Linked DNA regions of Homo sapiens: all the other regions are reported to be linked to region 4. Evidence: microRNA targets listed by miRTarBase, many of them from high-throughput screens and not tested one by one. Region 4 holds a microRNA gene; each other region holds the end of a gene's coding sequence.
Evidence for each region. The annotated mature microRNA hsa-miR-4534 reads GGAUGGAGGAGGGGUCU and lies in region 4 at 1,432-1,448, opposite strand. An mRNA with a match to its seed (bases 2 to 7 or 8) in the 3' UTR can be bound and repressed. Matches are read on the target gene's strand: a 7mer-m8 pairs with bases 2 to 8, a 7mer-A1 pairs with bases 2 to 7 and ends in A, and an 8mer does both.

Region 1: the mRNA of HYPK is a reported target of hsa-miR-4534. Seed matches in the 3' UTR shown: 7mer-m8 at 2,976-2,982 and 7mer-m8 at 1,757-1,763.
Region 2: miRTarBase lists NIPA2 as a target of hsa-miR-4534. Seed matches in the 3' UTR shown: 8mer at 3,402-3,409.
Region 3: miRTarBase lists GALNT6 as a target of hsa-miR-4534. Seed matches in the 3' UTR shown: 7mer-m8 at 2,698-2,704, 7mer-m8 at 2,531-2,537 and 7mer-m8 at 1,833-1,839.
Region 5: miRTarBase lists APOBEC4 as a target of hsa-miR-4534. Seed matches in the 3' UTR shown: 7mer-m8 at 1,239-1,245 and 7mer-m8 at 1,364-1,370.
Region 6: miRTarBase lists CLDN19 as a target of hsa-miR-4534. Seed matches in the 3' UTR shown: 7mer-A1 at 2,415-2,421 and 8mer at 1,472-1,479.
Region 7: the mRNA of SCN2B is a reported target of hsa-miR-4534. Seed matches in the 3' UTR shown: 7mer-m8 at 2,262-2,268, 7mer-m8 at 2,061-2,067 and 8mer at 691-698.

What each region holds. Positions count from the first base shown.
Region 1 is chr15:43,801,478-43,805,542 of GRCh38, reverse strand. It overlaps HYPK (huntingtin interacting protein K), which reads right to left. Exons shown (of 4, transcript NM_016400.4): 3 at 3,974-4,025; 4 at 1,116-3,832. The coding sequence ends at 3,737. MFAP1 (microfibril associated protein 1) reads left to right here. Exons shown (of 9, transcript NM_005926.3): 8 at 78-167; 9 at 267-1,051. The coding sequence ends at 449. SERF2-C15ORF63 (SERF2-C15orf63 readthrough) reads right to left here. Exons shown (of 6, transcript NR_037673.1): 5 at 3,974-4,025; 6 at 2,954-3,832. Among named protein-coding and RNA genes, the nearest start is that of HYPK, 2.9 kb to the right of the region's middle.
Region 2 is chr15:22,866,557-22,870,609 of GRCh38, reverse strand. It overlaps NIPA2 (NIPA magnesium transporter 2), which reads right to left. Exons shown (of 8, transcript NM_030922.7): 8 at 2,226-4,053. The coding sequence ends at 3,763. It overlaps CYFIP1 (cytoplasmic FMR1 interacting protein 1), which reads left to right. Exons shown (of 31, transcript NM_014608.6): 31 at 418-3,558. The coding sequence ends at 582. Among named protein-coding and RNA genes, the nearest start is that of NIPA2, 30 kb to the right of the region's middle.
Region 3 is chr12:51,350,859-51,354,923 of GRCh38, forward strand. GALNT6 (polypeptide N-acetylgalactosaminyltransferase 6) reads right to left here. Exons shown (of 12, transcript NM_007210.4): 12 at 394-3,634. The coding sequence ends at 3,521. Among named protein-coding and RNA genes, the nearest start is that of CELA1, 6.2 kb to the left of the region's middle.
Region 4 is chr22:37,986,212-37,990,276 of GRCh38, reverse strand. MIR4534 (microRNA 4534) reads right to left here and starts at 1,483; the gene lies at 1,424-1,483. It also overlaps a transcript of POLR2F not described here. RefSeq lists an enhancer at 3,827-4,065.
Region 5 is chr1:183,643,955-183,648,013 of GRCh38, reverse strand. APOBEC4 (apolipoprotein B mRNA editing enzyme catalytic polypeptide like 4) reads left to right here. Exons shown (of 2, transcript NM_203454.3): 2 at 1-1,739. The coding sequence ends at 336. It also overlaps a transcript of RGL1 not described here. Among named protein-coding and RNA genes, the nearest start is that of APOBEC4, 7.3 kb to the left of the region's middle. RefSeq lists a silencer at 1,966-2,260.
Region 6 is chr1:42,731,623-42,735,687 of GRCh38, forward strand. It overlaps CLDN19 (claudin 19), which reads right to left. Exons shown (of 5, transcript NM_148960.3): 5 at 1,471-3,512. The coding sequence ends at 3,464. Among named protein-coding and RNA genes, the nearest start is that of CLDN19, 6.6 kb to the right of the region's middle.
Region 7 is chr11:118,163,431-118,167,495 of GRCh38, forward strand. SCN2B (sodium voltage-gated channel beta subunit 2) reads right to left here. Exons shown (of 4, transcript NM_004588.5): 4 at 1-3,656. The coding sequence ends at 3,457. Among named protein-coding and RNA genes, the nearest start is that of SCN2B, 11 kb to the right of the region's middle.

The sequences.
Region 1 (4,065 bases), not on the chromosome of region 4:
TTGTAGAGTTTAATAAATTTGTGGTTTGAATATATAGGAAATAAAGCCACAAGATTGATAAGATTTTTTTTATACAGGATGAGGATGAAGAAGTATACAAGAGAGATTTCAGCGCTCCTACCCTGGAGGATCATTTCAATAAAACCATTCTTCCTAAAGTCATGCAGGTATGGGGAACCTTAATAACATGACAGAGAAAAGTGATGTATTGATAGCTGAGGCATGGTTTGTTTGGTGGTATAACTCATCATCCATCCTTCCCTCAGGTCAAGAACTTTGGACGCTCAGGTCGCACCAAATACACTCACCTTGTGGATCAAGATACCACCTCCTTTGACTCAGCTTGGGGCCAAGAGAGTGCCCAGAACACAAAGTTCTTCAAACAAAAGGCAGCTGGGGTACGAGATGTATTTGAGCGGCCATCTGCCAAGAAGCGGAAAACTACCTAGGGTCCAACTGCTTATTCTTCCAACTGTGGAACACAAGGGGAGTCTCAGCATCTGGTCCTTGATTTGGTTTTTTCATTGTTTCCTTGGCCCCTGTATCCAGATATTGGACTTACTGCTATACTTGTGATACTGGGTAGCCCAGACTTTGAAGGTGCTTTGTGAGGTTTGGACTCATGCTGAGAAACCCACAGGAAAGCACTGTCCAGGTAGGATTAGAGGCTTCCCACTTAAAACTATTTCTGAGAAATCTTAGGTTTTATCACTGCTATGGTTTCCCATATTTACTTGGGACTGTTCTGACTTTCTTTTTCCAGCCCTTAGCTTGGGTTAGAAAAGTGGACATGTAAGTGAACAATGCATTACTTCTACCTTAGGTTTAGGAGTAATATACCCGGAAATCTAAGCTCATGGAAACATGTTTTCCATTTTTGCTTGGAGTCCGTTTTTCTAGTTGTACATACTTTTTGATCCATATATGTGTGCATGTCAAGAAATAAAAGAATCACACAACAAGGAGATTTTTAGCATGATACTGGAAATAAAATGTCCAAGCTGACAAGTATTAATTGCCTATTAAAGTAAAAGATAACAATTGTCAGGCAGAAGGTGTTTCACATTTTGATAATTCCCTTTGATCTCAGAAACAAGCTCAGGTACTAGCTTGGCTTTAGGTAGCATCTGGATTTATTCCATGACCAAATACAGATGTTTTTGAGAAGACCAAGGTCTTCTCACATCCTTTAAATGTCCCACTGGAAGAATCAAATAGTTTAGTGTCGTACGATAAAAATGAATGCAAATAATTACTATGAGGTGGTAAATACATAAAGATGAACACAGGTACAAGTCACTGTTGTGTGGGATACAATCTAAGAATTATCCTAGAGTCAGAATGAGGGTAAGGCCTTGAAACTCTTGGAGAAATGTCTGTAATTGCCATTTGAGTGTCCTTACAGCAGACTCAGGGGCCGTTGCAGGGTTTTTTTTTTGTTTGTTTGTTTGTTTTAAAGAGACGGCTCTGTTGCCCAGGCTAGAGTGCCTCAGCCTCCCGAGTAGCTGGGACTACAGGCGCCTGCCACCATGCCTGGCTAATTTTTGTATTTTTAGTAGAGACGGGGTTTCACCATGTTAGCCAGGATGGTCTTGATCTTCACTTCGCGATCCGCCCGCCTCAGCCTCCCAAAGTGCTGAGATTACAGGCGTTGAGCCACTGTGCCTAGCTGGGGCCGTCACAGTTTTATAGTTGAGGAAACTAGTTCAACATGTGTGAGTTGGTCCAAGCTGATTTTTTTTTTTTTTTTTTTTGAGATGGAGTTTCACTCTTGTTGCCCAGTCTGGAGTGCAGTGGCGCGATCTCTGCTCACTGCAACCTCCTGGGTTCAAGAGATTCTCCTGCCTCAGCCTCCCTAGTAGCTGGAATTACAGGCGTCCACCACCACACCCAGCTAATTTTTTTTTGTACTTTTAGTAGAGATGGGGTTTCACCATTTTGGCCAGGCTCGTCTCAAACTCCTGATCCCAGGTGATCCACCTGCCTCGGCCTCCCAGAGTGCTGGGATTATAGGCATGCGCCACCACGCCCGGCCCTGATTAACCTTTAAAGTAAAATTACCTTCTCTCTAGGATAGGAAATGGCATGTAGAATGTATTATGGCTTAGAATTTGAATACCAATCAAAACCTTTCATAGGTTTTTTTCGTTTTGAGACAGTCTTGCTCTGTCGCCCAGGCTGGAGTGCAGTAGCACAATCTCAGCTCACTGCAGCCTCAACCTCCCAGGCTCAAGCAAATCCATCTCAGCCTCCAGAGTATCTGGGACCACAGACAGGCACATGCCACCATGCCTGGCTTTTTTTTTTTTTAATTTTAGTAGAGACAAGGTCATGCTATGTTGCCCAGGCTGGTCTGGAAATCCTGACCTGACACAGTCCTCCCAGCCCAGCCTCCCCAAAGTGCTGGGGTTACAGGCATGAGTCACCACACCTGGCCCAACCTTTGATATCTTCTAGTCTTACCATGTTCTAACCCTCAGGTACCTAAATTCTTTTTTTGGTGGTGGGGGGAGCGCGGTAGAGACGAAATCTCACTGTGTTGCCCAAGCTGGTCTCAAACTGCTGGGCTCAAGTGATCGTCTTGCCTCAGCTTCCCAAGGTGTTGGGATTACAGGCATGAGCCACCATGCCTGGCCCCTAAATTCTTTTTTGTTGTTTTGTTTTTGAGACAGTCTCGCTCTGTCACCCAGGCTGGAGTACAGTGGCACAATCTCAGCTCACTGCAACTTCCGCCTCCCTGGTTCAAGCAATTCTTCTGCTTCAGCCTCCTGAGTAGCTGGGACTACAGGCATGCACCACCACGCCTGGCTAATTTTATTTTTTTTGTATTTTTAGTAGAGACAGGGTTTCACCATGTTGGCCAGGCTTGTCTTCAACTCCTGACCTCATGATCCGACTGCCTCAGCCTCCCAAAGTGCTGGGATTACAGGTGTGAGCCACTGTGCCCGGGCTTTTTTTTTTTTTTTTTTTTTTGAGATGGAGTTTCACTCTTTCCCCCAGGCTGGAGTACAGTAGTACAGTAGTGTGATCTCAGCTCACTGCAACCTCTGCTTTCCAATTTCAAGCGATTCCTGCCTCAGCCTCCAGAATAGCTGGGATTATAGGCGCCCACCACCATGCCCAGCTAATTTTTCTATTTTCAGTGGAGACGGGGTTTCACATGTTGGCCAGGCTGGTCTTGAATTCCTGACCTCGTGATCTACCTGCCTCGACCTCCCAAAGTGCTGGGATTAGAGGTGTGAGCCACAGCACCCAGCCAAATTATTTTTTTTTAATCACTCAAAATCAAGCATGTTGTAGGTACCAAAATTCTAACTCAAGGTGGCCTATGAACTGGGTTCATAACCTACATCTATCTATATATATAGTGGCTCCTAGGCAGGTAGCTGGCCTTTTAGATATTCATAAGCTGTCTTGGAGACACATGCCATTTGAGTACAGTAACTCTGCTGAGACTCCAGATGTACCTTGAATACTGTTGAGAGCTAGTCAGATGAATGAGACTGGCCTGCCACCTAGCATCTGCACATGAGGTATTCTTCTACACTGATTTTTCATACAGGTGTGCTAGATTTTAATGGGTCACTTAAATTCAGTTAGTCTCCAACATATAAATTCTCCACAACATAGGATATAGTATACACTCTACTTGACCCAAGATGATAAAACTGAAAAAGACAAAAAAAAATTTTATTGCCATAAATTAATCCAGTAGGTATATTTGAGAAAGCACGCATCAGTTGGTTAGGGCAATAAGCGCCTCTACCACGTTGCCCATGTGTTCCCGCAAACTGCGTTCTGCTGCTGCTCGAGATATCTCCATCTCAGTCATCTGCAGAAAAAAATCATGTTACATAGGTTCCCAGGCATTAATGTGCCACCAAATATACTGACTCCGCTTGTTTCAGGAAACAACCCAAATTAAGCAGAATAGCCTCCCCTCCGCATACACTAGTTAGGCACTACCACTCACTATTAGCTCCAGATCTTCCTTCTTGATAGTGACTTTTGCCAGTTCTTTCTCCCTGCAAAAATATTTAAATATATTAGTCCTCATTCTCAACC
Region 2 (4,053 bases), not on the chromosome of region 4:
GGGAGTGCTGGCTCATACCTGTAATCCCAACAGTTTGGGAGGCTGAGGCAGAGGAGGATTGCTTGAGCTCAGGAGTTCAAGACCATCCTGGACAGCATAATAAGACCTTGTCTTTACAAAATTAAATTTAAAAATTAGCTGCGTGTGGTGGTACACGCCTGTGGTCCCAGCTACTCAGGAGGCTGAGGTGGGAGGATGTCTTGAGGCTACAGTGAGCCGTGATCATGCCACTGCACTCCAGCCTGGGCGTCAGAGTGAGACCCTATCTTACAAAAAAAAACCCAAAAAGAACAGTATGTGTGTCAATTCCGTTTGCTATTATTTTTCTGAGAAAATATAAGAATCCTGACATTTTGAAACATGAAGAATAAATGTTGAAGTGTTAATAGTAAAACATCCTCACTTTGATGGTTGTAGCCTTTGAAGAAGATGGTGGAGAGAATTCGCAAGTTCCAGATTCTCAATGATGAGATCATCACCATCCTGGATAAGTACCTGAAGTCAGGCGACGGGGAGGGCACGCCAGTGGAGCATGTGCGCTGCTTCCAGCCGCCCATCCACCAGTCCCTCGCCAGCAGCTGAGGGCACGCGCTGCACTCCGTAACTCAACATGGCATGCCTTTCTCTCCGTAAACTATTTAGTGAGATTTTTAGGGACTATTTTTCAGTATCTCTGTACCTGTTAAAGGGGGTGCTTTTCGATCTAAAAACTTAATTTTATAAAATTGACTTATTTTTCTAGACTAAAATTGTATATGCTTTTGGTAATTAGGAACTCTTGAGAATATTGGCTGCTGATTGTTGCCATCACGTTCCTACAAAATTGTTTTTCTATGGGATGTTCTGGCAGCTGTGTCATAAAATGCTGCTGGGTTCATTCATTCATTCCATAAGAAACTTAATACCAGCAAATGCATTAAATCCCTTGCCAGTTACCATTAACTGTAACTATTTAGCTTTTGTTTAGGGATCTTTCTGATGGTCTTTTATGAGCAATCTTAGTTCTAAGTCATTGTTCCCATCCCTTTTTTGTGTGTTTCAGAAAATAGTGAACTTGATTCCCCTGCTTCCACTAAATCCAGTTGTGACAAAATCTAACGTGACATCAGATCGAAAGGTTATAGAAATAAAACTAATGAGATCTATTTGTGTTCATTTATTTACTCTAACCCTGTGCTGCCTGGCTTGGCAAGGAACTCTAACCTGAACTCACATACCAGGCCAGCTGGGATGGAGGTCACCTCTAAGGCTGAGGTGGGATGGGACCGTGACACCATCCCATATACCGCTCACCTCAGCACAGGTTTAGCTTTATATTTAGGGTTCCGCAGGCAAATGAGGTGTAAAACGGCCGTGTTGGCTGCTCCAATCTGGATATGAAGAGGCTACTCAGTGCCTCTCTGTTACCTGTGCCCATGACCTGGAGGAAGCCAGCAATGTGGGAGGAGATCAGTCAGGCCCAGTGGGTGCTGCACAAAGGGACCGGGAGCACCGAGTCCAGCCTTCAGCTGTCCCCGATCCACAGGGCTCACATGGCTGGAGCTGGTTCACATGATCTGTCAGAATGAAAAACAATCGGTCTAGACTACCAGTAGAGTCACGAACATGTTTGAGAAACTAAAGCCATATTTTAAAAAGTACTAAGGCAATGAGGTTCTGAAAATCCTAACTAACTGAATGGAAAAAGATGCTATGCCTGTTTATTGTAGATGAATACTACAGATAAACACAAGTCCAGCATGATTAACTGAACTCACTTTATATTGTAGCCTGGCAGTCATTTTACATTATTTGGAGTATTGCAACCTTCACCAATTTTAAAATTTTCTATGGATGCCAAGTTGCCATAAAAAGCAGGCCTCGCCTACTTTTCCGGAGGCCTTTGGAAACTGTCCAGAAGCATATGATGCACGGCACAGAAAAGTAGTAAGTGTACGAACCATCCTGTTACACTGCCAAACTCACTCAAGTGACATGAAGCCTAACAAACAATTATTCTTTCTTTATAAAAAGTTCCCTAAAAATGCTTTTGGTAATGTGAATTAATAACCCTGGGGCCAGCATTCTGCTGCAGATTTAGAGGTGGTAGCTGTGCTTATCTTAGAAACTACAGAATAGGATGAAAAATTATGGTAAAACTTAATCAATTACCAAGTTTTATAAGGCTTAATTATATACCAAATATGTAATACCTTAGGTATAAGACAATCTCAAGTGCTACAAAATGTTAAATAAGAATTTATTATTTATTAACCTATGCATGTTCAAATGAGTCTCTGTCCTCAAGGGGGAGAAAACTGGTTCTTTTATGTACAAAGCACAGATGTAGGTACAGTATATAAACAGATACGTAGTACATCTGTAGTATTAAAATGGCATGGGAGGAGGCAGTTAGAAAAAACATCTAAAACAGCTCCTTAGAAGGCCAATAATAAAGTTGGAAAAAAGGGAGTTTCCACGCAGCCAGTGGTGAGCTGCATGGGATACCAGCACCATTGGCAGGGGAGGCCCTCGGGGAGTGATGGCTTGGCGCTGGCGCACCACTGGGTAACCTCCAGGCAGGAGCCACAGGCTGGAACAGGCGAACACTTTCTTCCCATCACCTAGGTGGAAATTAATTCTGCCAATACTTTTTTTTAAAGGCCAGTCAATGGTTATGAGTGGATAGGTTCAAAGCTGAATGGAGTTCATTAGACCTTTTTTATTATTCTACCTTTTCTGCATATGTTTGCAGTTTTCCATCGACTTCTTCATAAACAAACATTTTCTAGAAACCAAAATATGTAGTGGCCCAAAGGAGCTCTTAAGCAAAGTACTTGGTACAAAGAGACCATATTCTATAAACATGTTAAGTTTGTTCTAAGCATTCAGACTTTTAGAATAAGAACTTCATTTCAACTTTTTATTATAACATGAGCTAAATTTAAGAAACAACCCTAGTCTTCTATTTCCCAGAGCTGTTCAAAGTCTAAATGACAATATAACTCATTATGAAAATATACTGAAAAGTACAAGAGCTGATGTAAAACGGTAATCAAGGTTCCAGGCATCATGGGATTAGGGTAACTGAAGAATAAACCCAGCCAGGCTGCAACAGCAGGCAGGATGTGCTGGCTTGATGAGGTGCTAAGGCCATCGAATGCTCAGAGGAAGCCGGATTCACGGTGATCATCTCAACCTGAGAAATCGTTCCTTGGGGTGATTTCTGCCCTTTTTTTTGTTTTGTAAGAAAGAGGTTCCTTCATTCAGTAACTTAGTTTTCCCTTAATAAATATTTCAAAAATAAAACCAATCATCATCAAACAAACAGGAGCCACTTTTGTAGGTAAGGTAAATCACAGGATAATGTATTGGGATAACTCTGTTTTTTTAAAATAAAAAAGCCTTACATGGTCAGGGATTGATGGAGTGGGGATGACAAATGCACATTTCAGACTTTCATCACCAATGAAAAAATAAAGCATTTTCATAGACTTAAAACTGTCATTAGTGCATTCGGCTTTTGGAGAAGGGATGAAAATGTAAAATACTTCTACAACAATAAAATGTTAATAGAAATCGTCATGTGCTGAGGTCATTTTAGTGAGCTACCATTGTTTGTTTAAATACAAGAAAAGTAATTTCTTGGTCCAAATTAGTGAAATCTTTAAAAAGATTGCCTTTAAAGAACATTATTTGAGGACAATGTTTTTTCAGACACATTCTGATGATATTCAAATTCACTTCATAACAATCACAGATTAACCTTTAATTACACCTTTCTTAAAAAGCTGTCAGATTTCCATTTCTTCGGGAGACATTTTCACCAGTGTGTTGTTCGATTCCACAGGTTAAGCTTTCTTCATTATTATTAAGAACTTCATACATATTAGAGAGATTGCCATTCATTGCTTTCTCGTCTTTTCGAAAAGACACAGGCAGACTTGCTAGACTAAAGCTGACGTCTTTAAAGGCATGCAACAAGAATATCCCCACAATGATTGTAAAGAAGCCACTCAAAGTACCAATGACATCGTCAACAGGCATATCTTGCCACTCCTTAAAAAGAATAGC
Region 3 (4,065 bases), not on the chromosome of region 4:
ATCTCCCACTCCCTGCGAGTAGCTCTTGGCTGACTGTGCCTGGGAAGTGCTATGCTATTTGGGGGCAGGTGGAACCTTCTTGACACAGCTGGGCACCTTGGTTGGGCTACATCATATGATTAGGCTGGGGAGCTGTTGGGTGATACCATAGACAGTATGAGGGATACTGGGATCCACGTTTGGATATTTAATGCAACCAAGAATAAGGCTAGGGTTAGGCTCCACGACTCCCTGTGGCTTACCGGACCTACCAAAGCCTCTCTCAACTGGGCCCCAACCCACTCTTGTACGGGGCTGAGTTACCCAGTAGGCACAGCAGGTGCAGTGCCCAGGGCCCATAGAAATGTTTTAGCTTCTTTTAAAACCAGAAGAAATAAAGTAAATCCAATCAGCCTGGATTACATTCATCTTTATACCAACATAGTCATAACATTAATTTTTTTTTGAATGGAGCAAGAGCTCCGTGAAGGCTAAAGTGCCTAGGGCCCCTGAAATTCATGATGTAACTCTGATCTTCCAGCTTCTACACCAGTCACTCCCTCACCCCAATGTCCTCTGGGTTTCTCAGACCCACTGGGGCCACATGTCCTCTGTGGCTTTGCTCCTGCCAGGCTGCTGCCTGTGTAACAACTCTGCTTATTGAGCCCTTCCCATCTGAGGACTCATCTTCCGAGGTCTTAGGTCAAACATTGCCATCTTTGTGAGGCCTTATCTGATTCCCTAAGTGGAAGGAATTGCTCCTTCTAACTCATCCAGCACCTCTTGGAGCATCTCCAGGCTTGCTATGATTTGCTTACATTTAGCGTGTGAGTTCCACGGGGACAGGACCTCGTTTGACGTCTCACGTCTCCACGTGCTTGACACAATACATAAGCTAGATTTAGGGCCAGAGAATGTTTGGGGACATGAGACAGTGGCTGTAACAGAACTTTTCAGATGTGTGTGGTTCTTCATAGCCCAAATCAACTGATTCAGCTAAGGGACAACACAGGTAAGAGAACACAACGCGAGTTTCCTTGACCAATGCCAGAAAACCTTTATTTCCACTGAGACCTCTCATCCAATTCTCTTCTTTCCGGGAACTTTTTCCCTTCCCTACTCCAGGTCGTACCCTGGCCACTCCTTTCCTTTTGGCTGGCCAATGTCTCCTCTGTAGGCTCCAGAAGGCTCTCAGGGATGTAGGCGGCCTCCCGCAGGGTTGAGTTGCAATGGGAACAAAGACAGCTGTGGTCCCATAGCACCCTCATCTGGTGACATCCTGCTACTGACAGTCAAAAGAAGCCTTCCCAGATGAAATTTTAGTCCTCTGCGCAGCCATGCTCTTCTTCCAGCAAAAGAGCCATGTGCAGTCGGGTCTGCTCCCCATGGGGGCTTTGATGTGGGCCCAGCAGTGGATCAGCCTTCCAGACACGCTCAACTCTGCACACTCTTCCTGCCGCCTCAGGCTTTCCAGGACCCTCCCGAGCCTTATCAGAGTCCTTACCCTCAGGGCTACTGATACCTTGCTGGGTGACCTTGGACAGATTCACTTACCTGGACTCAGTTTCATAATATGAAAATGATAGGGTTGGGCTACGTGATTTTCACGTTGTGCTTCCAGATTGTTAGAAGTTAGGGGCTGGAAGGCATTACCTGTCCCTCTCTCAATTTCACTCATGCTACTTTGTTTTTTTAATCTACCTTTTATATGGGGCTTAGAAAAAAGGGTTCTGGGACAAACCTGAGAATCACTGGCTCCAGGAGCTTTCTTTTAACACTAACATCCCAGGATTCCTAAGTGTGCTCTCTCCACAATGGCTACCTGGCCCTGTTTTTCCTTTCTTTTTTTTGGAGATGGAGTTTTGCTCTTGTTGCCTAGGCTGGAGTTCAGTGGCGCGATCTTGGCTCACTGCAACTTCCGCCTCCCAGATTTAAGCAATTCTCCTGCCTCAGCCTCTTGAGTAGCTGGGATTACAGGTGTGCGCCACCATGCCTGGCTAATTTTTATATTTTTAGTAGAGATGGGGTTTTACCATGTTGGCCAGGCTGGTCTCGAATTCCTGACCTCAGGTTATCCACCCGGCTCGGCCTCCCAGAGTGTTGAGATTACAGGCATGAGCCACCGTGCCCGGCCCTGGCTGTTTTCCTATGCTCTGTGGAGGCCAGCCAGCTAGAAATGATTAGAATGGAGGAAGAGGGAATGAGAAGGCTGGTGGCGAGTGGTCTAGCGTTCTTGTGGTGCAGCGGAAGGAGCCCTGGCTCAGCATTGAAGAACGAGCCTCAGTCTTGGCTCCAGCCATCTGCTAGCTATGGGACTACAGACAAGCCCCTTTACCTGTGTCTCAGTTTTCGTATCTGTAAAATAGGCACAGTGGTTTCTGTCCTGTCTTTCTCACAGGATTACTGTACAGATAAAGTAAGATAAAGGACACCTGTCAAGGAGATATCTGTAAACAGTTCTACAGACTTCAGGTAATAATAGCAAGGGAGGATCTCTTAGACCTCTGATCTGTCTGTTAGAATATACTTTTTTTTTTTTTTTTTTTCCTGAGATGGAGTTTCGCTCTTGTTGCTCAGGCTGGGGTGCAATGGTGCTGTCTTGGCTCACTGCAACCTCTGCCTCCTGGGTTCGAGTGATTCTCCTGCCTCAGCCTCCCAAGTAGCTGGGACTGCAGGTGCGTGCCATCATGCCCAGCTAATTTTTGTACTTTTAGTAGAGATGGAGTTTCACCATGTAGTCCAGGCTGGTTTCAAACTTCTGACCTCAGGTGATCCACCTGCCTTGGCCTCCCAAAGTGCTAGGATTACAGGTGTGAGCCACTGTGCCCAGCCAGAATATATCATTTCACTGGACTCTGCAGGTGCTTTGGATGATCAAGGAATAGGACATGGCTGTAGAAGTACTTTTCTTCTTCTTTTTTGTTTTTTTTTGAGACAGAGTCTTACCTGTTGCCCAGGCTGGAGTGCAGTGACACAATCAAGGCTCACTGTAGCTTCAACCTCCGGGGAACAAGCAATCCTCCCACCTCAGCCTTCTGAGTAGCTGCGACTACAGGCATAAGCCACCATACCCAGCTTTTTTTTTTTGCCGGGGGGAGGGTGGGCGTAGAGATGGGATCCTCACTATGTTGCTCAGGCCGGTCTTGAACTCCTGGGCTCAAGCCATTCTCCCACATTGTCTTCCCAAAGTGCTAGGATTTCAGGCATGAGCCACTGTGCCCAGCCTGAAGTACTTTTCTTGAACTCAGCATTGCTGCCCTGAACCCTCCCCCAGCTGCCTTCCCTACTTTGGGAGCCTCTATTTCTAGAACAGGAAAACGCTAGGCTAAATATATGTCCTAATGGTCTCTTCCATCGGTGTGAAGGAAAGAAAATGGGCCCAATGTTGTTGCAAGGATTAGGAAGGTCCTGCCTTGCCACCCAGTGGGTTTAGAAATCCATCTTTACGGCCTCCAGAGAAGCTGGTGATCAGGTTCCCAGACATCAGCAATCCTGTTTCCTGAGGAGCTTGTGGGGGCTCTCTCTGGGGATGATCTGGGTCCTAGACAAAGAGCCACAACTGATGGGGGTCACTGGGATTGCAGGGGGCCATGGCTGGCTTTTTGTCCTGGGATGTCAGGCAGGTACCAGATCCTGAGTTCCTGATGAGCTGATCCTAAAAGATGACAAAGCAAAAGGTCAGTCTGGGCCACAGACCTCTTAACGGTGCTACCAGGGACAATGCGATGGGGTGCAATTGACAAAAGCCAAGGGAACCCCACAAGGCACAAAGAGGACACTTCCCCATTCCTTTCCTGCCCTCTCATGAGACACATTCCTGAGTTCCCACCTCTATCTGGTGCCAAATCCCCATCCCTAGCTTCAGACTGAGTGGATGAAATGGTGAAAGACAAGACCATGGGCTGAGAGAAAAATGCTTTCAGGGCCTCCCGCACCCCCAGATGGCCAGGCTCAAAGACCCAGGGCCACTGCTCCACCTCCAATTTTCTGCCTTGGATTATGTTTAGACTGCTCCCTTCCCTGCAGCCTCCAGGTTAGGTTCCTCTTTCCTAAGCTGGGGTGGAGTAGGGAGGCTCACTTGGGGTG
Region 4 (4,065 bases):
CTGCTTGCACCAGAAACAGGGAGGGGCAAGAGCCCCTGTTGGGACAGGCCATGGAATGCCATCCTCCTCCCCCAGAGCTCAGACCCTCTGCCTCCAGGAAGCCACTCCTGCCCGCTCCAGCCTCCCTGGTCTTTTCCTCCTTGGAACTCTGACAGCAACTCGGCTCAGGGAAGGTGAGCCGAGGCTGAGCATGGCCTCAGGGGCTCCCAATAGGAACTGGAGACTGGCCTGTCCTCCAGGCTGTTCAGTAAGGAGGCAGAGCACATCTGAAGGTGTCTCCTCCTCTGAGGGAAAGTCATAGGGAAAAGAATTCCAACCAAGGTGCCCAAGGTGTGTCCTGGAAGAGGACCTCTCAGTGGGGCTGCAGCAGTGCCTAGACCGCCAGCAGGCAGAGGGAGGACAGCGCTCCAGGGGAAGGTGGAGCAGGCCCAAAGGCCCAGGCAAGGAGAGGAGGCAGGAGCAGGCCAACCTGCAGCTGCACTTGCAGCCTAGGGGCAATAGAGCAGAGTGGTCAGAGGCTGGGCTGGGACCAACCACAGGTCCCAGTCCACACCCTGTCATCATTCGCTGGGCGAGCTCAGGCCTGTCACTGAATCGCTTTGTGCCTCAGTTTCCTCCCTAAAATGAGAATAATAGCATCTACTCAGAGGGTTGTTGGGAGGATGAAGTCCGATGACAGGAGCCCTCACAGCTGAGCCGGCACCTGGGGAGGCCCTAGAGTGTCGCCTTCGCTGTTAAGGGGCATGGCAGAGGAGGCCCACCCATGACAGAGGAGCTTGTCATCCCAAGCAGGAATGCCACCTGGTCTGACATTAGGATTCAAAAGGCAAATGATAAACTCCTGACTGTGAGGCCGTGGTGGCTGCTCGGTTAATACTTGTGCACTTGACCTGAGGTGAGCATCCTCCACACCTCCCAGTGCTGGCCTAATAGCTAAATGATTTCCTCTGACTCACATTTATTGAGCAGTCACTATGCTAGGTAGGGGAGATGTGTGTGTGTATTCTTATTTAATTCTCTCATCACTTGGGGATATCAAGGGTGCATAAGATTATCAACATCGTACATATGCAAAAGCCGAGTCCTGAGAGGTTAATAGCGTGATCTGCCTAAGGCCCCTTGGGTACTAGTGGCAGGATTTCTTGACTTCAAGTCACTTTCCACTACATCCGAGACTGAGGATGACACAGCCTTATCCAAAGGTGGAGGTGGCCTAGAAAATGCTCAGGGGAGCTCCCACAGCCACCCCAGCGCACTCAGACTCGGCTGAAGACCCACAGGGTAGCTTCTGTCTGTCACTATGCTGCCCTCGACCACTAACCTGTGCCCGTCGGCCCTCCACCTTCCCAGTGCATAGGCCCTCCCCTGCCACACCCCAAAGCTCTCCGGATACCCCAGTATAACCTGCCTGGCTGGTGGGTCCAGTACCCAAGACCCCTCCTCCATCCCTGGTGATTTTGGCTCTGGAAGGGGGTCATTCACAGCCTCAGGGATCCAGAGACTCTGTGAAGACCTCCCAGGGAACTTTATGCTTGTACCTCAGCCCCAGAAATTCAGAATCAACCAGTCTGGGGTGGGATCTAGGCTCCAGTATGTTTTTTTGTTGTTGTTGTTGTTTGTTTTTATGAGACAGAGTCTTACTCTGTCACCCAGGCTGCAGTGCAGTGGTGCGATCTCGGCTCACTGCAACCTCTGCCTCTTGAGTTCAAGTGATTCTCCTGCCTCAGGCTCCCACGTAGCTGGGATTACAGGTGCGTGCCACCATGCCCAGTTAATTTTTGTATTTTTAGTAGACATGGGGTTTCACCATGTTGGCCAGGCTGGTCTCGAACTCCTGCCCTCAGGTGATCTGCCCGCCTCGGCCTCCCAAAGTGCTGGGCTTACAGGAATGAGTCACCACGCCTGGCTCAGTATGTTTTTCTTTTTTTCTTTTTTTTTTTTTTTTTGAGACAGAGTTTCGCTCTTTTTGCCCAGGCTGGAGTGCAATGGTGCAATCTCAGCTCACTGCAACCTCCACCTCCCGGGTTCAAGTGATTCTCCTGCCTCAGCCTCCCAAGTAGCTGGGATTACAGGCGCCTGCCACCATGCCCAGCTAATTTTTTTTTTTTTTTTTTTTTAGTAGAGACAAGGTTTCACCATGTTGGCCAGGATGGTCTCAATCTCTCGACCTCATGATCTGCCCACCTTGGCCTCCCAAAGTGCTGGGATTACAGGTGTGAGCCACCACACCCAACCAAGGCCCAGTATGTTTTTCTTAACTCCACAAGTGATTGTAAATTCAACAAGAATTAGAGCCAGTCCTAGGCAACTGATTAGAAATGCAGAACCTCAGGCCCCACCCCAACCTGAAGAATCCCAGTGCGCCTTCCCATTTGAGAAGCACTGCCCTACGCCAAACCCCGTATCCGCAAGCCAGGCCCTGTGAAAGGCCCCCGCAGGGAAACTGGAGGTAGGAGGGCACACAGTCCAGATAGAATTAAAGAGTGGAGGCCAGGACCCCCCAGGTCGCATCCACACAGCACTCAGAGGTGCTAAACGCTTTCCCTGTGTTCCCTCATCCCATCTCAGCCCTGTCCTCTGAAAGTCAGGAAGACAGTCTCATGCCTGTGTGGGGAAACTGAGGCTGGGGCAGAGCCTCAACTTGACCAGACCATCCCTCACTCCTGCATGGCCCCTGGTTCTGCAGCCAGCAGATTTCCTGACCTTCATCTCAGTGTATCCTTCAGGGCAGGCAGGGAGGGAGGGTGACCATCGCCCCACGTGACAGGTGAGGGACCAGGGACCCAGTGGGGGAACACAGGCGGAGCCTTCCATAAAGCCGGACCAGCTCCCTCAGGAAGAGGACTTGGGAGCTGGGGGGTGAAGGGTCACTGCTGACCGGAGGCAGCTCTGCCAGGCAGTGTCATCAGTGGGCTTCACGTTTGACTGACAGGTATTCCTTTCCTCTCCTCCTCTCTGGGGCCCATCTTCTGAGTAAATCCGGGACCTGCCTTAACAAAAGCCAGGCTGAGTCCCAGGAAAACCCTGTTGCTCCGGAAAGGCCTCCTTGGGCCATGGAAGGAAGCCTGGATTTCCACCATTACACTCAGACCGCAGACCCCTCTCTGCTGCAGAATAAACACCCTGAGAGAAGGCAGGTCATAGAGCCTACCAGACACCACACCTTGCCATGGACGGTGACAAACCCTCACTTCAGGACAGAGAGGTGATGGGGGGTGGGGTAAGGAGGTCACAAGCATCCCTGGAGAAGGGTCAAGAATGAGGGGGTAAAGGGACCCCTGCCACCCCCAGCAGGGAAAGGAGGAGAAGGTGACACTGGCCCTCCTGTTGTCCTGCTGGGGCAGAGGCCCAGGTGTCTTCAGCCAGGATCCCTCCCCTCTCCAAGCTCCCTGCTCTTCAGGAATGACTATGGGTCCTTCACCCTTGCCTGCTGGAGAGCACTGGGTTCCCAGGGCCTGGGATGGGATGGAGGGGATCCCAGTTGCCAGCATGGTGGGCAGGGATGTGTTCGCAGCAGGGGCCCCAACCACACACACACAGCACTGGTCATCTGACAGCCCTTCCCACCCGCCCTGCAGGCCCACCTGCCTCACCCAACACTGCTCAGCAAAAAGCCCAGCACAGCCCTGAGAGGAAGGCAGTGTCTGTGCGGGGACAAGGGAGAGAGAGAGGGAGTGGCCCCTTCTGTCTAGCGTGGCTTCCTGCAGACAGAGCGTGCCCACTGCTACCCCCACCCCCATCCTGGCACAGCTGGACCAAGGAGGGCAAAGGAGGAAGCAGGGAGTTAGAGAGGGGGCAGCTGTGGGACCCCACATTCCACCTCCTAACTCTGGGCTCTTTCCTTCCACAACCACCCCTCCTGCCCCAGGCGGGTCTCAGGCCAGTCACAGACACAGCAGAGAGCGGGGAGGTCCTTTCCTCAAAGAGGAGGAACTGAGGGGTGGAAGGATGAGTGGGGACCCACCGGGAGAGAGAGATGCCAGGCAGGCAGGCAGCGGGCGGGCAGCAGCGGGTGTTGGAGGCGACTGCAGGGCAGCCGGGACACGACGGCAGATGCTCGTCCCT
Region 5 (4,059 bases), not on the chromosome of region 4:
GCTTTAGAGAGCTACCCCTTAAACAATGCCTTTCCTGGACAGTTTTTTCAAATGCCGAGTGGACAACTCCAACCCAACCTACCTCCAGACCTCAGGGCTCCTGTTGTTTTTGTGCTAGTGCCTCTCAGGGACTTACCACCAATGCATATGGGCCAAAACCCAAATAAACCCAGGAATATCGTAAGGCACTTAAATATGCCTCAAATGTCATTCCAGGAAACCAAGGACCTTGGAAGGCTTCCCACTGGAAGGTCAGTGGAGATAGTGGAAATCACAGAACAGTTTGCAAGTAGCAAGGAGGCAGATGAAAAGAAGAAGAAGAAAGGGAAGAAATAAAATCTACATTCCTACAGCATGAAACCAATTACCAAGGGACTTATTAGATAGGCAATAAAAATCTGGAAACTTTCTCTCTCAGGGCTGAGCCAAGATGGAGATAAACTGATGCACTAAAAGCAAACCTTGAATTATTTACCATATCAACTATTATAAAGTTACACTATTTTAAACATAATCCAAAATGTTTCCATAAGCAACTTGATCTCTCTCCTTTATTTTGAAAGTGGCAGTATCAAAATGGAACCATTAGCAGCTTGCTAATATTTTGATGCAGAAAAGGAATCTCATTATTCTATTTTACTCACATCATCTTTCCACTACAAAAGCCCATGGACAAAATAGCTACCTAAATTTGTTTCGGTAAAAAATTTACTGTAAAATTGAAAAACAGCCTGAAGCTACTGACATTAAGTGCTGTTTGCAGGAGCAAACCAGTGATTTTCTATTAATTGTTAATCATGGACAGAAGATTTTAGGCAGCTCATTTTTTTCTAAAGTGATTCAAAATAGTTTTGTGTGGGAAAAAGCTCTTCTGCTGATTACATATAGCTATAAAGATTAAAACCTAGCCACCTGCTCAGTTTGATCTTCCCCAGCTCAGACCTCTCCCTTCTGAGCAGATGATAGAGGTAAGATGATACATGAGAACCTCCAATGGCTCCTGTCATCACATACTGTATAAAATCCAAGTTCCTCTTACTGGCTTTCAAGGATCCTCCTTTAACTTCCTGTTGCCTTGTCTCATCAGCAAGATCATAAGTACCTACAGGTCAAGCACTGTCTCTCCCTTCTCTTTAGCTTTTCCCTTAGGATCTAGCACATTACCCAGCAAAATGTGAGTAGCAAGGCTGAAATGACATCTCAATAACTTCACCAATGATTGTAACTCAGCATCCCTTCTCCATCCCAGCTGAAAGCCTGCTTCACCATCCTGCAAGAGATGTTTTTTCTTTTTGTTAGCATCCATTCCCCTTTCTAATGCAGCTCCCAATGCATAATGTGTGTTTTACTTCCCTCTTTCTGACTCCATCCTCGTCACCAGTGAATATTTGTACCTTCTCTTAAAATCTTCAAAACACACTTCTAGGAAGTGCTCCTTGATTAATCCTCTAAGCACTTAAATGAAAGCACTTTGCTTATGCTTATTTCACATTTGCTGCCACTTGCCTCTTTGAAATATGTAAAGATACATTACAAGAAAAATGTACATTTTCTCGTAACTTGCTATTAATTTTTTTCTTTATATATATATATAAAGTAATCCTAAGCTAATAAAAGAGTTTGCCATGACATTAAAACATTTAATACTCCATAAGGGAGGAGGAGAAAGAAAAACATATTTTAGGAATAGCAATTAGTATTGTGGTTAAAATAAACATGAATAAAAATTTTAAAACAAAGTTTTATTGTTAGCATACAAATTTTAATGGAATTACTGGAATATAGTTTTATTCTGGGTATATAGTGAGTATTATTTAAAGAAGTACTGTTGAGGTTTATTTTTATTTCATGAAATCCTATGTCCACAATTTGGGATACTGAGTTAAAAAGATCCCAACATGACAAATCCAGCATCTCTGATCATTATTAAAATAGATCCAATTTGTTGCCAGAAAATGGCAGACTACAACATGAACCAGGCTACAGAGAATCCAATTAGAAACATGGTCTGAAATAGATGATGAACTGAACCTGGATATCAGTGGTATATAACAAAAGGAGAAGTTGTCAGAACTATAGGAAAGAAAGTGCCTTTGGCAGTTAAACTTTTGTACTGGTTCGATAAGACTAGGGCTACAAAGAAGATTACTCACAGGTCGTAAGTCCAGGCCAACCTTAGACAAAAGACTGTTAGAAGAGCATAAAGATATACTGTCCAAGGCAAGTAATCTGTTTCCTCATCTGTAAAACAAGAAATGTGGGCTAGTTCATCTTTAAGGTTCCTTTCAGCTCCGTCTGCTATAAGAAGGCATATAGCAAAGCAATAGTTCCACAAAGTGAGATCCTGCAGTGCAGTGATTAGCTTTCCTTGCTCACTACGCAGTGATTCTTGGTCATATCAGGCTGGCCGGGGATTGAGAGAGAGAAATTGGGTTGCTCCACCCCTCTTCAGCCAACTGGCAATGGTGATATGGAAGAATATCTCTGCCACCACACATATAGAACTAATGGAAATAAAGAAAATAGAAGTAAATTAAGGTAGCTAGTAATATGATGATCTGGAAAAGGCACTGGGATATATCCCAAGAAAACAATGAGACTGAAGAGACGGACACATTATCTTGGTGAATCTACCAAGGTCCAGGGTTTGGGGGTCTTAGCTTTATATGCTCAACTACCTACTTAGTAAGTACAGGGAGAATGGATTTACTCATCAGAAGCAGGTTTGGATTAACAAACCTCTTGAGATTGACATGTAAAGACAAAAAACTAATGTACTGATTTCTAGTAAGACTTATAACTGGATATGCAAGCATATATTCAAGTCATCCAGGTTACATAGCCTCTCCATGTAGATAAGCTACATAGCAAGCCAAATTATCATAAGGTTGCCTTATGGATTAGAGGAGTCCATTATGTGACTCAAATGTTTAGTGCTATCAGATTCTGCTTTAGTAGTGGTGACTGACATCTGCTTAGAATGAAGTGGTGGATGGGGTATGCACAAAGGCATCTCATTCCTGGACAATGTTTGGGAGGGTCTAGGCAACAAGAGACAACACAAACCTCTATGACCAGCTCCTGTCATAGCATCGATTTTCTATGTGACTAGAAATCCGTTTTCTATGTTTCATCAAGCTACAATCCAATTTATATAATACTAAATAGATTAGAATTCATCAAGCTATAATCTAATCCTGCTGATCGGACAGCAAATCCTATTTCTTTAAACTGCCGTTACATCTTTTTTATTCATAGTATAAGCAATCCAAAAAGTTTAACTCACAGAATGGAATCTTACTCTTCGTATTGGTTTTTAAGGAAAGCCACATAAATAAATTTAAAAATTAAAAAAATAAAATAAAATAAATTTTAAAAGGAAAGCCACATCATAACCTATGCTAATTTAAAATAATATTATTCGGCCAGGCGTGGTGGCTACTGCCTGTAATCTCAGTACTTTGGTAGGCTGAGGCAGGAGGACTGCTTCAGCCCAGGAAGTAGAGGCTGCAGCGAGCCATGATCACACCACTACACTCCAGCCTGGGCAACATAGCAAGACCCTGTTTCTAAAAAATAATATTATCATTATTACTAACATTGAGTGAGAGCTATATGTCAAGTATTTTTCTAAGCACTTACATGTATTAATTCATTTAATCCTCCCAATAATCCTATGAGGTAGATATTATTATAATAACTACTTTACATATAAGGAAATTGTGGCACAGATAATTTAAGTAACTGCCCAAGTAGTAAAAAAAGGCTGAGCTGAGCGTTAAACCCAAGAAGTCAAGCTCCAGAATCCATGTTCTTAATCATTATGCCTTAATGCTTCTCTAAATAATAACAATGCAGATTCACTACAAAGTCTGAAAGAATCCATATTTATTTAGGACCTGTCCTGTAGCTTTTCTGTCATTCTGCTCAAACCACAGTACCAATGGGCATCCTCTAAACTATGGAAGCCAGGTAGGCAGGGTGGGCTAGGGTGGAAAACTTTAGTAGGTTCTAGATCCCAGAACTTTGGCCCTCCCCCACTCCCCTGTCGCCCAGGAC
Region 6 (4,065 bases), not on the chromosome of region 4:
CAGTCCATACGCTCTATTCTCAGCTGCACAGTTTTTGAGCCTCTTCCCAAGCAATAGCATATTTTCCTGATCAGCTTCTCCAGGGGCTCAGGTTCACTCCTTTTTGCTGAACATCTTCTGTTTCTGTGCTCCTTGGCCCTGGGGCTGAGTACATGGGTGTATTCCTCCTACAATCATATTTTATGGCCTGCCAATTTCCTTCTGGGGTGGGGGGGGCGGGGAACAGGACGACTCTGTTTAGTAATACACAATGCTTTAGAATAAGGCAAAAGCCTTAGAATCATGCCTTTTGAGTCTGAGCCCTACCTTCCTGGGTCTCTCCCCAGTCCTTTAGCCTTAAGGCTAGGACAGTAAACAACAACCTGGACATGACGCCCGGATTATCAGCCCTGCCTCCAGTTGGCAGCCCAGGTGGCCTTGTTGTAGATATATGAGTGGGTTTGCTTCAGGAGAAGCCTGTGGGAACAGGCATCTCAGTCTTTTAGCTTCAAATTCCTCTGGTTTTTTCCCAGATATCTTCTCATTGCCAGGATCTCACTACATTTTAAATCAGTGTGTTAGTTGGTTGTTTAATTCAGCGAGACGTGTGGTTCTCTGACCCTCTGCATCTTTAATCCCTGGCTATAGGCAGAAAGGGCTTCCCCTAAGGAACAGACTGAAGCTTGTTCCCACTTTGCCATCAGGCACCCCCTCCAGCGCTCCCGCCGCCCCCCGCCACTTGCATGTATCTTGTCTGTCTTGCAGCCTATCCCTGAAACCCACAAGAAGTAGCCAGCACACTCTATCCTCGCATTCTCCATTGGACCCTGAATCTCAAGAGAGAATGACGTGTGGTTTCCTGGCCAGCTGCTTCATGACCAAATAGCAAGGACTGCCCAACACCCAGCCTAGAATAGGAGGATGATCCCACCCCTGCTCCACTGGCACCATATAACAGGATTCCGCAAGGCTGTGCTGAGTTTCCAGGTTCCAAATCCTGTTAGGTAGGGCTCTTCTGGCTGTGTGGGACAGGATTCAAACTCAACGTTTTTTCAGCCAAAAGGGGAATTGATTGGGAAGATGTGGGCGTGTCACAGAACAGCCTGGTATTGGGAAAGGCAGGAGTGAGTGGGGCTTCCTCTCCCCACCTCTTTTCTTTCTTTCTTTTTTGAGATGGAGTCTTGCTCTGTTGCCCAGGCTGGAGTGCAGTGGCACAATCTTGGCTCACTGCAGCTTTCGCCTCCTGAGTTCAAGCAATTCTCCTGCCTCAGCCTCCCGAGTAGCTGGGATTACAGGTGCCCACCACCACAGCCGGCTAATTTTTGTATTTTTTAAAAATAGAGACAGGGTTTCACCATGTTGGCCAGGCTGGTCTCGAACTCCTGACCTTGTGACCCACCCACCTCAGCCTCCCAAAGTGTTGGGATTACAGGCATGAGCCGCCACGCCCGGCTACCCACCTCTTTTCTTTTCTTTTTTTTTTTTTTTTTTGTGATGGAGTCTTGCTCTGTCATCCAGGATGGTGTGCAGTGGCACGATCTTGGCTGACTGCAACCTCCACCTCCCGAGTTCAAGCGATTCTCCTGCCTCAGCCTCCCGAGTAGCTGGGATTACAGGTGCCCACCACCACAGCCAGCTAATTTTTGTATTTTTAATAGACACGGGGTTTTACCATATTGGCCAGGCTAGTCTCGAACTCCTGACTTCAGGTATCTACCCACCTCGGCCTCCCAAAGTGCTGGGATTACAAGCGTGAGCCACCGTGCCTGACCTCCACCTCTTCCCTTGTGGGTTCTTTTCTCCCTCTGCAGACCTCACAGAGTCACCTGGGCTTGAGGCCTCATAGAGGAGCCCTCAGTGCTGACCACACACTACAGTCCCCTGAGGAGCTACATGACTTCTGATGCCAGGTCCACCCAGACCAATGAAATAAGAGTGTCTGGGGTTGGAGCCTAGGCATTGTGCCCCCAGGTGATTCGAATGTGCATGCAGGGTTGGGAACCATTGCACTATAGCTTCAGGCACCCAGAGGAGAAACTCCTGCAGTTCTCATTCATTAGAGGGGCAGGACTCTGGGGAACCTATTTAGGGTCAGGTGGCCACATCCTCTGACCAGAGGCTGGACAAGTCCCTGTTGTGCCCCGGTGGATGTGCAGCACCGGCCAGGCCAGGCGCCGAGGGGTCAGTCCCCCAGCAGCTCCCTGCCATTTGTGTCATTCCTCCCCTCCCTGCCCTTGACTGCAGTGTACATGGCAGTCATCTCATCTGACTTGGTTTCCGTCACTTTCCCTCTCAGAGTCAAGCTCGAAGGAGAAGCTGAGCTGCGTTCTTGAGATCTGGGGACGTGGTGGGAGATGTGGTCACAAGGCAGGTGGTGGAGGAGGCCAGAATGGAGCTGGCCAAGGAAGGTGCGTGGCAGGGAAGGGGAGGTTCTGTGATGGATGCTTTCCCCAGAAGCCTGATACGCAGTGGCCAGGGAGACTGAGTCCCGGGAGAGGGTTTGGGGTGGGAGAGGTCTGAGCATGAGGGGCAGGGCACACTCTGGTTCAGGGAGATGTAGGACAAAGGACTCTGGCCTTGGGACTGATCTGGGCTGGTTTCCTTACATTCCTCTCAGGCCCTTCCCCCTGTATGCTAAGGGGGGATGGTACCTGGACTTCAAGACCAAAAGCCCTTCTCTGACCGCACTGCTGAGTGCAGCAGGCAGCTCCACCCACAGTCTCTGGGCAGCCCCAGGCTGTCCCCTCCCCACTCTGATTCTAGGACAAAGACCTTGGACCTCAGCTGGATGCTGGGGATCAGGAGAGGAGGAATGGTAGGTGTGGAAACAAGGGGCAGGATTCGGGGTGAGCAGAGCTGGGGGCTGCAGACCTTGCTCAGGACAGTCCTAATGCCTGCAAGCTCCTAACGCCCTCCCCACATTCCCTTTTCTACATGGGGAGCTCCTACACTGTGTCCCCTCACCTATCGCTGATCCCCAGCATCCAGCTGGAGGGCCTTCCAGGAACTGTCCCTTCCCTTAGGAGGTCTCTGGAGCACAGTAACAGGGGCAGGGTTTACTACCTTGGGGCCTCTTTCCACACCAGGGGCTCCCTGACCCTGGGGACTGCTCCTAGAGCTGGGCCAAGCCTCAGGGGCAGCCTCCAGGAGTGAGTGGGATCTCCTATCAAGGAGGACTTTGTGCCAAGGCCAAGGCCAGGCTTGGGAGGGGGGTCCCTAGACAGAGGGTAGGACCTCTGAATTATTTCTTGCTTAGCCCTGGATGTGCTATGTAACCCACCCTGGACCTCTGTCTCCTCATCTTTCTGCCCAAGAGCCCCAGGGGTCAGCACTGACCACTCTGACACAGGCCCCGTCCAAGCCACGCTGAGGACAGACCGAATGATACCATGATTGGGGCTGGATGTTCACTTCTCTTTCCAAAAAAATATGAAACACACAGTCTAGGTATGGCAGGGGACAGAGCCTGGCTGGGGACTGGACATTACACACCCAGGGGGCCCTTGGCGGAGGCGGGCAATTTAACAACTGGTCTGAAAGTCAAAAGAGAGAGAGCTGGTTAGTGGAGTGAGCTGTGGGGTCGGGGGCAGGGGCTGTGCATTCAGGCCCGGACATGGGTACTGGCCAGCGTGGCCAGACCTTGGCCCTCACAGCAGCCCTGCCTGGGGCCCATTCCCGGGGGCAGGGGCGCCATGGTCCGACCTCACCATCTGTGTAGGTGGCCCCCAGCCCTGGGCGCACTGGAAGAACCTGAGACCTAAACTCAGACCCTCCCTGTCCTTGTGTGAACGTTCAGCATCCCGGCACTGCCCTTGTGGGGTTGCTGTGAGGAGCCCATGGGACTGGGGAGGGTGAAGGTTTCTGCTCACCCCAAGGACCTGGGTACTAAGGTACGTCTTGGCCACTGCTCTATCTCTAGGGCCCAGCACGTAGCAGACACCCAAGCAGCTCTTCAGTGAGTAAACAGCCGGGCTGGTGCCTGAGGGCCTGTCTCCAGGGATGCATGCTGGTGCCCACCAGGCTGTGCAGACAAGACCGTGCCTGGACCTGCATCTGTGTGTATGCCTGGGGGCTGGGTCCTGCCTC
Region 7 (4,065 bases), not on the chromosome of region 4:
GCAGAGAGAAACATGGATCCGATCAGCTTTTCCTTTTTATAAACTGGAAATAACTGTGAAGAGTCCATAGCTAGGGGGCAGATAGCTATTTCCAAAGCCAGTTCCAAGGCACCTCAAAGCAGTTCAGTCCTGAATAATTGTGCTTTGTTCTTATAAGCTAAATCCCATGGGTTAGCCAGCCCGTCTCTCTTTGCAGTGGCCCTTAATTAGGAGGAAGAGACAGATGGGGGGTGGGGGCAGAGGGAGGTTCTGAGAGAGCAGGAGAGGCTGGGGCAGTTGAGAAAGTCAGCCGACTAAAACCAGCAGAGCGTGGTGGTGGGAACATGCAACCAGAAGTGGGGCTCGAACCCCACGGTAGGAAGAGGAAGAACTTGTCAGCATAAGTTAGGAAACAGGGTAGGGAAATGGCTGCTGTGGAAACATCTCTCTGGTTTTCCACCTCTACTTACAGAAGCCCCATTTTGCTCCCAACTTCACCATCCTGGGGGAGGCAGCTCTATGAGTCCTCTGGAGGAGATTCTAAGAGGCTCCAGAAGAAAATGCATATGAGGGCTGAGCACCTGGGACAGAGATGGTTCCTGACCCAGCCCCATCTGCTGGGGCCCTGAGGCCCGTGAAGAGACATTGCTTTTCCTGGGCCCCAGTTGATCAGGGCAGAGGAAAAAAAGACTCCAGGAATCTTGGGCTTCTTGATGGAGAGTTAGAACTTCTTAGAATACACTAGGAAAGCCCGCAAATAATTCCCCTAAATGTTATGGATCCTGGAAAAAGATAAGTTCCCAACATCAGCACAGCTCCTCACTCATCCTGGGAGAGAAGGACACTTAAAGGGTGACCAAAAAAATGAAATCTGCAAGCTGCAGAAATGTATACAACCACTCTTGGTCTCAGCTGGCATGAGGTGCCCGCCACCCACCTCTCTGCCCCCAGCTGGCTGGCTCAAGGATGGGCAGCGTCCATCTGCTGCAGGCATCCTGGCGGCTTAGCCCACCCGCATTGGCAGTGTGTTGATTGGCAGTTAGGTACTGAGCTGATGAGTTTAGCATTTCCAGATGGGCTTGACTCGCTCACCTCACCCAGGTGTTACCAGGCTGGTTGCCCATCCCCCACTCTGCACCCACTCTGCCTGGCCTCTGCACCCTTGACCCTGTTGTATTGCCCCTCTTCCCTGCTGTTTCTCCCTTCCCAGGGCACAGATTCTAGAATCTCTTCATCTTCCCCAACTGTAGCCTTGGAAGCAGTGTCTTGCAGAGGTGGAATTAGATGCACCAAAAAGTTAATCTTGGTCCCTACAGTGCCAACCTGGCAGTCCCCAGTGCTTATGGCTTTGTGTATATCCCCAGTGCCCGGCACAGTGCCTGGCACATAATAGATGCTCAATAAATGGTTGCTGAATTGAAGCAAATTAAGCTGAATCTCCCAGATGATATTGCTGTCTCCCCAAATTGGCAATCTGATGGGCAGAGGCAGGGATTGGTCCCTGAGACTGTCACGGTCCTGTCTCCACCCCCTTTCCTAGACTTATTCCCTACCCTGGGCACCTGACTCCTTGAGTAGGGGTGGGGCAGAGCTCCTGGAAAGGCTGGGAAGTGCTGGGGCAGGGAATGGGGCATTTGCCAGCAGCTGTGCCCTTCACACTTGCTCCCTCCCTCCCTGCTTCCCTCCACTCCTCCTCAGTCCTGGCCAGAGGGGCTGGGCTCCTGGGAGGGGGCAGGGCTAGAGAAGCCCACCCCTCCAACTCGCCCCATCATAGACCAGGACACAGAGGCCCCTCCCACTGGGAAAATGATGGCTCTGTTGCTTCAAACTGGAGACTGAGGAGCCAGAGAAGAGGGCAGGACCCTCAGTTTCTGTCAGTTGGAACCTCAGTTTCCCCATTTTAAGTGAGTGACTTGGCTAGTTGATCTCTGAGGATCTTCCAAGGTCATGGTCTCAGAGTCAGTGTTTCTGCCTCTTGCTCCTTCTCTCAGGCCTAATCAATTTCCATTGAATGTGAGTGTAATGGCAGTGATGGTTGGCTCCGCACAATTGCCTTTTTTTTTTTTTTTTTTTTTTTTTGAGATGGAGTCTCTCTATGTCACCCAGGCTGAATTGCAGTGGCACTATCACTATCTCAGTTCACTGCAACCTCTGCTTCCCGGGCTCAAGCGATTCTCCTGCCTCAGCCTCCCAAATAGCTGGGATTACAGGCACACGCCACCACGCCCAGCTAATTCTTGTATTTTTAGTAGAGATGGGGTTTTGCCCATTTCTACTAAACAGATGGAGGTAATCCACCCGCCTTGGCCTCCCAAAGTGCTGGGATTACAGGCGTGAGCCACTGTGCCTGGCCTACAATTGTCACTTTTGTCCCCACGAAGGGAGTTGTTGGGAGAGGAGCGAGTAGTGTGGCTGCAGATGGGACAGGGCTGGCATTGGCAGCTCAGGTTCCAAGGCCTCCCCTTATGCCGGCCTCAGGCTTTCCCTTCCCTCTCTGTAGCCAAAAGCCAGGTGGAAACCCCACCAAGGGCAACTGGGAGAGTTCTCACTGAAGCCCCAAAGAAAGCTGCCCCACCCTGTGCATGGCCTCCTCATTTCCCAGCCTTGGCTGCCCCTGCCCAGGCGAGGGTGGTTACCCCATGGAGAAGGCAGAGCCTGCAGCAACCTGCATTCACCATGGAGCCCCACCCCTCAGCCCCTCAGCTGACTTTGAAACTGGCCTCTGTTGGTGGGTCCCCGCTGGGAAACATGGCCCCCTACCTGGAGCTGCTCTTCCAGTCTGGCCTCATCCACAGTCCTAAGGGATTAGGAGCCAACGGGAGCCCCAAGGAGGCCACTAGCAATGGAAACGAGGGCCCAACATGGCCTCCTGGGCCAGGGCACATGTCCAGCTTTGCCTGCAGCCCTGGCTTTCCGTCAGTGCCCTGGAATGCACAGTCATCCCTTTAACATGCCCCTCCAAGTTTCAGGAACTCATCGTCACCTCCAGCCTGATGGCTGCTCTGGGCTGGGAGCAGGGGAGGAGCACAGCCGTGCCAGGCCAAGGCCCTCCTGAGGGAGCGCTGTCAGCACAGGAAAGCCCTCCCTCCCCACCAGGTCCTCTCTGAAGCCACTGCCAGGCCAAGCACTGGGCAGGTGGACAGCGGCCCCCTCCTCTACCCCTGCCCACCCACTCCCTTCTCTCTGGGGACCCTCACATGTGCCTCCTGCCTCCCCCCAGGGACTGGCAGGTGGGAGCCCTTTCTCTCCTCTCCCCAGGGCCCACACGTCCCAGAGCATGGCAGGTTTCTCGGATGGAAGAGAGTGGGTCACTCTTGGTGCAGGGTGGGAGATACGAAGTCGGGGGTTCAGGAGGCCCCAGGTGGGCCCTGGGGTCCTAGGTCACGGGAAGCACACCAAGAGCGAGCAGGCAGGGTCACTGTACAGGGCGGAGAGGGGAGGAGACGGGACACGGGAGGCTGCAGGGCCGGCCACCCACTACTTGGCGCCATCATCCGGGTTGCCTTCACCGTCCGTCTTGCCCTCCTCCTCGGTCTTCAGGTCATCTGTGCTCAGCTTCTGCTCTTTTTTTCTCCTCACACACTTGACCACCATCAGCACCAAGATGACCACAGCCAGGAAGCCCCCGACGGAGGCACCCACAATCACGGCCACCGTGGAGTCCCGCTCAGGGGGCTCTGGAAAGGAAGCAGAGCCACTGAGCACCAGGGCTGGGAAAGGGGCCTCCCCCATCACCCCACTACCCGTGGCATGCGTGGAACCATCCTGACTTTACTCTCCTCCACAGACAGGACTTTAGCAAAGCCGAAAAGCAATCCAGTGACTGACCCTGAAGCGCCGCCACCTCCAAATCCCAGGACACCCAAAGCCCCCAGAGGAGCTAGTGTGATGAAGTATTTAAGAGCATGAACTTTAAGATCAAACAGACCCAAATTTGAGTCCTAATTGTACAACTTACGAATTGCGTGACCTTAAGTAACTTATCCTCTCTAACCTCAGTTTTCTAACATGTAAAATGGGCTTAATAATAGTACCTCCCTCAAAGGTTTTCATGAGGATGAGATAATGCATAAACAGAGCTTAGCC